Linked DNA regions of Homo sapiens. The protein of the gene in region 2 interacts with the protein of the main gene of each other region in a biochemical or structural test. Each region holds a gene or a part of one and is shown on either strand. Other genes may lie near its edges.

The links. Proteins that work in one complex are often made in the same cells at the same time.
Region 1: the proteins of NFIA (region 2) and ERG form a complex in vitro, tested with the Homo sapiens proteins (one study listed by BioGRID).

The regions. Positions count from the first base shown.
Region 1 is NC_000021.9:38,496,883-38,500,633, forward strand, and holds the start of ERG (transcriptional regulator ERG), read right to left. Parts: upstream 1,596-3,751; 5' UTR 1,499-1,595; coding exon 1,481-1,498; intron 1-1,480. UniProt on the Homo sapiens protein: Transcriptional regulator. May participate in transcriptional regulation through the recruitment of SETDB1 histone methyltransferase and subsequent modification of local chromatin structure.
Region 2 is NC_000001.11:61,085,441-61,089,191, reverse strand, and holds part of NFIA (nuclear factor 1 A-type), read right to left. Parts: intron 1,044-3,751; coding exon 512-1,043; intron 1-511.

The sequences.
Region 1 (3,751 bases), on a different chromosome or scaffold from region 2:
AAGCTATTCAAGATTTACACAGAATATTTGATTTAACATGCATATGAATAAGGATGAAAATAAGAACAAAAAAATAACATTTTGGGTCACAAAATCAAGTAATTTCTATTCATGTAGCTATAAGTAGGGCACATTAACTCTCAATTTTATAATTCCTGTCTATAGGAGCCATATTTCAGCAGATTCCAATCCTTGAAGCCAAAGAAAGAAAAGTATAAGGTGAAAGTTCTTGGTACACAGATTTTTAATATATTATTGAACACACCTTGAGAAATAAAAGCTGAACTTCTCAAACACAGTTTCTATGGTACATATGAGTCAAATCTTCTAATACAAACATTTCAAATTATGAAAATACCAAACCAAAGAGTATTTTTGAAAATGGCTTGGCCCAATTCTGGGCAAACTTCCATTTTCTTATGCACTTTCCAACAAACTAAAAGCCTTATGAAAACACCACCAAATGCTTCTCACCTCCGTGCAGCAAAACTAAAGACATGCAACAAACACAATTTTCTTTTCCCTCCACTCAGCATCTGCTTTTGTTGCTGATTTTTCACATTTCTACAAATGTCACGAAGGCATGGTGGCCTTTAAAACAACTGAACGGACCCCCATTCAAGACTGCATGCCCCTTGACTTGTAGTCACCATTAAATTGGCTTCATTTCCAGGAATCAGGCCATATTTAGGATTGTACCTGTGCAGATTTACCTCCACATTAATCTCTACATGCTATCTACTAAAAACTTAGGCAAGGAAATGCATCAGACCAAACACCCCACAGCACAGAGAACCGACCGGCCATTGCTTTCCAATCTCCGCAAACCTAACCATTGCTGGAAGAAATCTTACTCACAGTGCACAGACAGTAGGTATTTTATTGAAGATAAACATATAGTGGAACAAACCAAATTACCCCCATTTGAGTTACGTGAGCACTCAGTTCTCAGCGTGGATGTCCCACAAATCAAGTCAACATTTGCGTCCCATTACCAGCAGCCACTTGCCGAGTATCTCTTCGCTTCCACTGGGACTGCCTGGCATCCCTGATGCTAAGGAGCCACTGAAGAGCCTCCAAATGTCTGACATTCACAAACGCATCTTTTGCTTTGACCCGACCCTTCAACCTCTCCGAGTCTGCTGCCTTTTCTCAGACACACATCCAGGCACCGTTAGGGATAGTTAGAGAATCTGAAAATTCAGAAGCGCTCCGAAAAGCCTTTCCAAAAGTAATCCACAGCACTCAACAGTGAATTTAGAAACCCCAATTTTTTTCTGAGTTTGAAGTTTTTAAGCCTTGCGGATGGTTGGAGTAGGAAAAAGGAAATTTACTAGGCAGTGCAAAGGAAATCTTGTTGTCCTCTATTGTGGCAGTGGGGGTGTTGCCCAACCCTAACTTATCTGCCTTGATAAAGGAAACCAAAGAAAAGAGTAACAAGAACAAGATTTTGTCAAATTAAAAGGAACCCTTTCCTTACCTTAATAGTGCTGGCCATAATGCGATCAAGTTTATTGATCGTTAATAAATGTTAATAATAATTATTGCTTCTCTCTGACCAGAAAGTAGTTTTGATGAGGTTGTTTAGAGCGGATGAGATTGTGCTAAGTCTGGGAAATGAAGTCAGCCAATGGCAGGAAGAGGTTTCTATTGGTCCTGGCTGTCCAGCCCAAAGAAACAGGATATTTGGGAGTGGAGAGATAAGAGACCCTGAAAACAATGTTGTTTTTCTTGATGATATGCAGCCAGGAGATTTTTTTTTTTTAATTAAAAAAAGAAAAGGCATCAATTGGGATGGGGACTGCCACAGCAGGTGTGACCGGTGTGCCGCCGTGTGACACACTGCACTGAGACCAAGGCAGGATGCAGATGTGATGGGACTCCGCATGGCTTCACACGGGCTGCAAGCACCTTGGAGCCAAGGCGTTGAGGGCACCCCACTGCCCTGGGTGTCAGCCCTTCGCAGCCCAATTCTTCGCAGAATTACTAGGACAGAGGACTTGAGCTCCTTTCTCCTAAAAGGAAACTTTGCAGGTGGAGTTTATTTCATGTTAATAGATGGCCATGTTCAGTAACAGCCATTGCCTGGCTGATTTTTAACAACCTATATTTATTCAACATTTCATATAAGTGTTCCAGAACAGTTTCATTTTCTCCTTCCAAATACCTGCACTTTTTATTTGCTCTACAACAAAGTTGTTGAAAACGCAAGGACTCTAGGCTTACAGTAAACACAAAAAATAAAGAGGAAAAATAAACCTTCCTAAGTCTTGTTTTCAAGTATTTATTAAAACCCAAATAACTGAAGTGACTACAAATGTCCCGGAATATCAGTGAGCTGGTCTCACTCTGACAGACATCCATGTTGCAGACAACAGATCCTCATAGAACTTTTGGCTACCCAGAGATGCCATGTGAGGGCCCCATTACATGTCTAAAATCCAAGCTATAAGTTCAGGGTCACAGGTCTGTTTTCTCCTCGAAGGAAGTACAGCGAATGCAGGCCTGAACATTCCTTAGAGGGTTTCAGGACTTTAATTACTCATTTTCAGGAAATTGCTTGGAAGAAACATTTTGCTTTGAATCTAGCTACAGGAACGCAGGACCCATAAAGAGGTGTGGTCTCAATAGGCGACCCCAAGAACACAATAGACTAAATCCTGAGTCATCTGACAATTCCTGGTTGCAGAGCTGGACGTTCAGTAAATGGATTTCACTCAGACTTTAGGCCGGCATGTGTCAGAGTTCTGTCCACCAGCCCAGGTCATTCTGGCTTTTATTATATACCTCTGATTTATCACCTCATGTTAGGACAAAAGAAGGAGGAGAAGGAGAAAGATAAGGGGGGAAAGGGAGAGGAAGGAGAGGAGGAGGAGGAGGGAGGGAAGAGGGCGAGAAAAAATGGAGAAGGAGAAAGGAAGGACAGAAGAGAGAGAGAAAGGAAGGAGGATGGGAGGAAGGAGGGAGGAAGGAAGGAGAAAGGGAGGGAGGGAGGGAAAGAAAGAAGGAAAAGAAAAGAAAGAGAGTATATTGTAAGAAAATCATTCTGTGGAAATCAGAACCTAAGTTCTCAGCACCTACATTATGAGGGGGTGTTGATTTCCGCTCTTTTCATCTCTGAACAATGAATAAGATGGCAGGCTGATTAAAATTCTGTTTCCCCGAAAATTTCAAAGTCCTGAGCTGTTTTATCTGGGCAGCTTCCACTAGAATTCTGGAGTGCGGAGGAGAAAAGCTCTCTCAGCTTCCCTGAGTGTCCTTGCTTTTTGTTCTCTCCTAAGAAGCATCAATGTAAAATGTTAACTGTGGCCTCCACAACACATGGCACCTGATTATGCCTTTACCAAACACCAGCTTTAAATAAGATGAACGCTTTGCTAATGAAATAGCCACGGAAGAAAATCCTGTGTGGTCCCGCCTCACCCACGCCTCGTGGTTGCTAATCCAGCCCTCAGTTGTTCCCTGCAGCAGGAAAGATCAGCATTTCTACTGGGACCTAATGCTTCAGTGATGATTTGGCCTTAACTCCCTGGTTCTTGCCTAATGCAAATCAAACTGTGAAGAGTGGGATTTCTTACCTCTCTATTTTGAAATAATTTCCAACTTACAGAAAAGCCACAAGATAATACACCAAACTCCTAATACCCTTTGCCTGGTTAACTCTGATTGTCTACTGGTGCCAATGTACATCATTTTCTCTGCTTTCTCTCACACATGCTCTCTCTCTCTCAATCTCTGTCTCTCTCTCCCA
Region 2 (3,751 bases):
CGTATTAATGTGATTATTTTTCCTTCCTAAATGATCAGCAATTTGATAGTAATCTACCTCCAACTTCTTAATTGGCAAGGGGTTCAAGAGGCCTCAGTAGGTTAAAAACACTCCCAGCAGAAAACCAACTAAAAATATTGCCTCAATACCAAAATAAATGCTTTTAAACTAGATCATTTGTCAGTTAAAATATACTCTTTATTAAAAGGGTTTTCACGAGGCTTCTCTCATCCCCTCATCAAAAAATGTGATTTAAACATATCACATATCTGATTACCAACGCCTCTGAAAACACTACTTACCAAAAGAGCTGAACTTAGTGAGAATTCGCTCAAAGCTATGCTTTTTCACCTGAATGAAGGTGGCACCTCTCTCAATCTTTGAAACCACACTGGCTTCATGTACGTGGCCTGCAACTTGGGGAGCTCAGGAAGAATCCGGCATAACGCGGAGGCCATCAGGAAAGAAACACACACAAGAAAGTGGGAGGAATTCTCACCATCGCACTTACCTGCTGCATGCACAAAGTATGCCAAATATAAATCGAGTTCCTTAACAGAAACCCCTATGTGATGGGGTTGGACACAGAGCCCTGGATTAGAGCATTGTGGGGACTTTACAAGGCGCTCGCCATCAGTACTTTCCAGCGGAATACCTTTAAACAAAATCACCATAACAAGGTCCAACCTCCAGACTTTATCTGCCTGGCGGAGGCAGTCAATTCTTCGCATCTTGCCTTTCTGGTCTGGGTTGGAAAGAACACAACATGGAGGTTTTTTCCCTGTAACTGTAAGAACAAAATCCTCTCGATATTCGGGTCGGATATCTTTCCGCAACTTTGCCAGAAGTCGAGATGCCCACTTCTGCTTGACCTCTGGTTTTTCACTTAGCAATTCATCCTTCACGGCTCTCTCTTCTTCTTTTGACATACGCTTTTCATGTTTTTTGAAGTATTTTCGTTTTCGGGCCTGCAGGTTGAACCATGTGTAGGCAAAGGCTCGGACGTGGGGCAGAAGTGCTTCGATGAAAGGATGAAATTCATCCTAGGAAAATGAACAAAAAGAAAAATATAAGTAGAATGAAAACAAAAGAAAACAACTTTTCTTCAGCGGGTCACCTTAAGAAAGAAATTCCTCATTTCACTTGAAATTTGATTAGAGCATTCTGTTACCAAAATCATACACAGGATCCTATGGGAAGTCTGGGAAGGTGGGAGAGAAAACTATCAGTATCATTTCTTATGATCGGAAATAAAAAAACTGCTGAAAATTAAAAAACTGTTTTAATATGTTCACCAGGGTACACCAGCTACTACTGTCGGGCCTAGCTCCCCATCCTTTAGATAGTAAGTGAAGTTTATCTAAATGCTTATAACAATGTATAATCTTAACCCTATTTCAAGGAAGGCATATCTAATTTTGTCCCAGCCTTGACCTCACCACTTGTAGTACAGCCAGGGCCCAGCCGCCAGATTGGCAAATCCTAAACATTTAGATGCCAGTCAATGTTTATGGAAGTCTAGGAGCAAAAAATCATCTCTACAATCAATGAAAACAAAGGCTTTCCCCCTAAAAATATTGCATGTAGATTCTGATATGTTTCTTACTCATTTTGCTAGTGTCTAAATTCCCCTTTTAAATATTATAACTACATATAATTTTTTTAGTCAAAAACTAGGACAAATTTGGGAGGTTCATATACAAAAGAAGGATTGAATTTGATATTTATTAGGCTAAAATAAAAGATCTATGCCCAAGACATAATTGCTAATACTATGGGAATGAAACAAAAAGGGGGAAGAAAGAGGAAAAAAAAACAAAGAAAAGCATACATGAATACATTTAATTTACTAATATGATTGTGAAGTGCTTTCAGTAATAATCATACCTAAAAAATAGATTATTTAATTTTTGCAAATACTATTTCAGGATTTTTCTCATAGGGAATCAGAACCTGGTATTTTCAATATTTACAAGATGCCGGGAAAACCCTCATAGATGCCTCTTAAAATTGAAAAAAAAATTGAGTTTCAAATATTTAAATGTTTCTTTCTGTTTTGCTTAAAATGTTTGATCCTTATACATGACATTTTCTTAGGAAATATAAATATATTTTTTAAAAAATTAAGCAGTAACCTCCACAAAGCTTTCGGAGTACGTCTAACTTTTGATTAACTAATCCACACTGTTACATAACTTCTCTCTGCCACATAACCCCCTCTCCAAAACATAGATTACCTTCAAATAAATGAGGATTAGAAACCAAAGAAAGATTCGATGGCTTTTTTGCTAAATGGTGTAGGACAGACAAATATTATAAAATGCATTCTTTTTCAGTTTGTTATATCTAACTAAATATATACTTTCAAGGCACAGGTAGCAGTAATGTCCAGAATATTATTATTAACACAATTACTAAATTTTTAAATGTTCAAATGTGAACTGATAAGGTAAAATATTTAATAGTCGTGTTGTTTAAAAATTTAGCAAATTATAATCAATCATTTAAACACTCTATATGACTGAGCTTTTAAAAGTAAGTATATATTAATACATAATAAATTACTTCAATAACTGACTTTTTTCCTCTCTGCACAAATTTCAGGTTCTATGTTTCAAGTTTAGCTTTCAAAACTGCTCTTTTTCAATAAAAGAATCCAAAAGAGAAGTAGTCAGCTTTTGTAACACGTGTGCATTCTTTAAGTAGAGAGAGAATAGAAAAAAATACAGGAATTGTTATTCTTGCCATAAACCATTAACATTTTTAAAATTTCTGATGTTTGAGAATATTTCTTATTCTCATACTTTAGGTGACAGGCATGGGGGGCAAGTCACAGTTTATCTGCAAAGGTATACGCCAAACCACAAAGCATCTAAACGTTACTAAATTCTGAGCTCATCCTTGAAATGATCTAAAATACATAAATTTTAGGTTTGAAACAGAACTTCACATTGACTGATTTTCTTATATATACAAGACATGCTAGGGACCAAGACTCTGTTGTATTATGCAAAAAACTCCTGGAGTCTACCTTAAACTACCAAGTGAGCTTTCACCAAAAGGAGGACTTCATTTTAAAGTTTCATCCCCATTTTATAATGCAAAGTATAACTTAGCTCCAAACGATTCATATCTATGTTAAAATGTTATCTTATTTAAAAGTTTGATTAATGATAATAAGCATTTAAAATAAACATTCTAATATGGCATTTTAAGTGTCTGTAGATACTCCCAATATGCTTTTCAAAAAACTGCAAACTGCATGCATGCATTCGTGTCCAACAGGATTCTGTTTACCTGCCAACCAAATGCCCATATATCTCATCATAAAAATCCTTAAACAAGAACAACTATGTCAATTAGTCATTAAGAATAACTTAAGTCCCCAATTTTGCATCAAAAGTATTTACAATGTATTACTCCCCAAAGGTTAAGAACCTGCCAGTAAAAGTCCACAATATTTTGTATAACTTTACTCATATGCACAATTAAAGTATTGATTTTTTCTAATGTATCTTTCTCAAGTCATGATTTAAAATATTCCAGAATATCAAAACTAAAGAGTATCATTAGCTTGCAAGAAATGTCCAGGAATAGCATAAATGATTAGTTAAAAAAAAAAAGTAGTGTGCCCTTATAATTCATGTTGCTGAACATATCGCTATAAGCTAGGTACTATTTCATAACATTCAAGAGGAAAAAAAGAACGTTTTACATATGTACTCAGTGAGAAAGTTATAGGCCACCAATA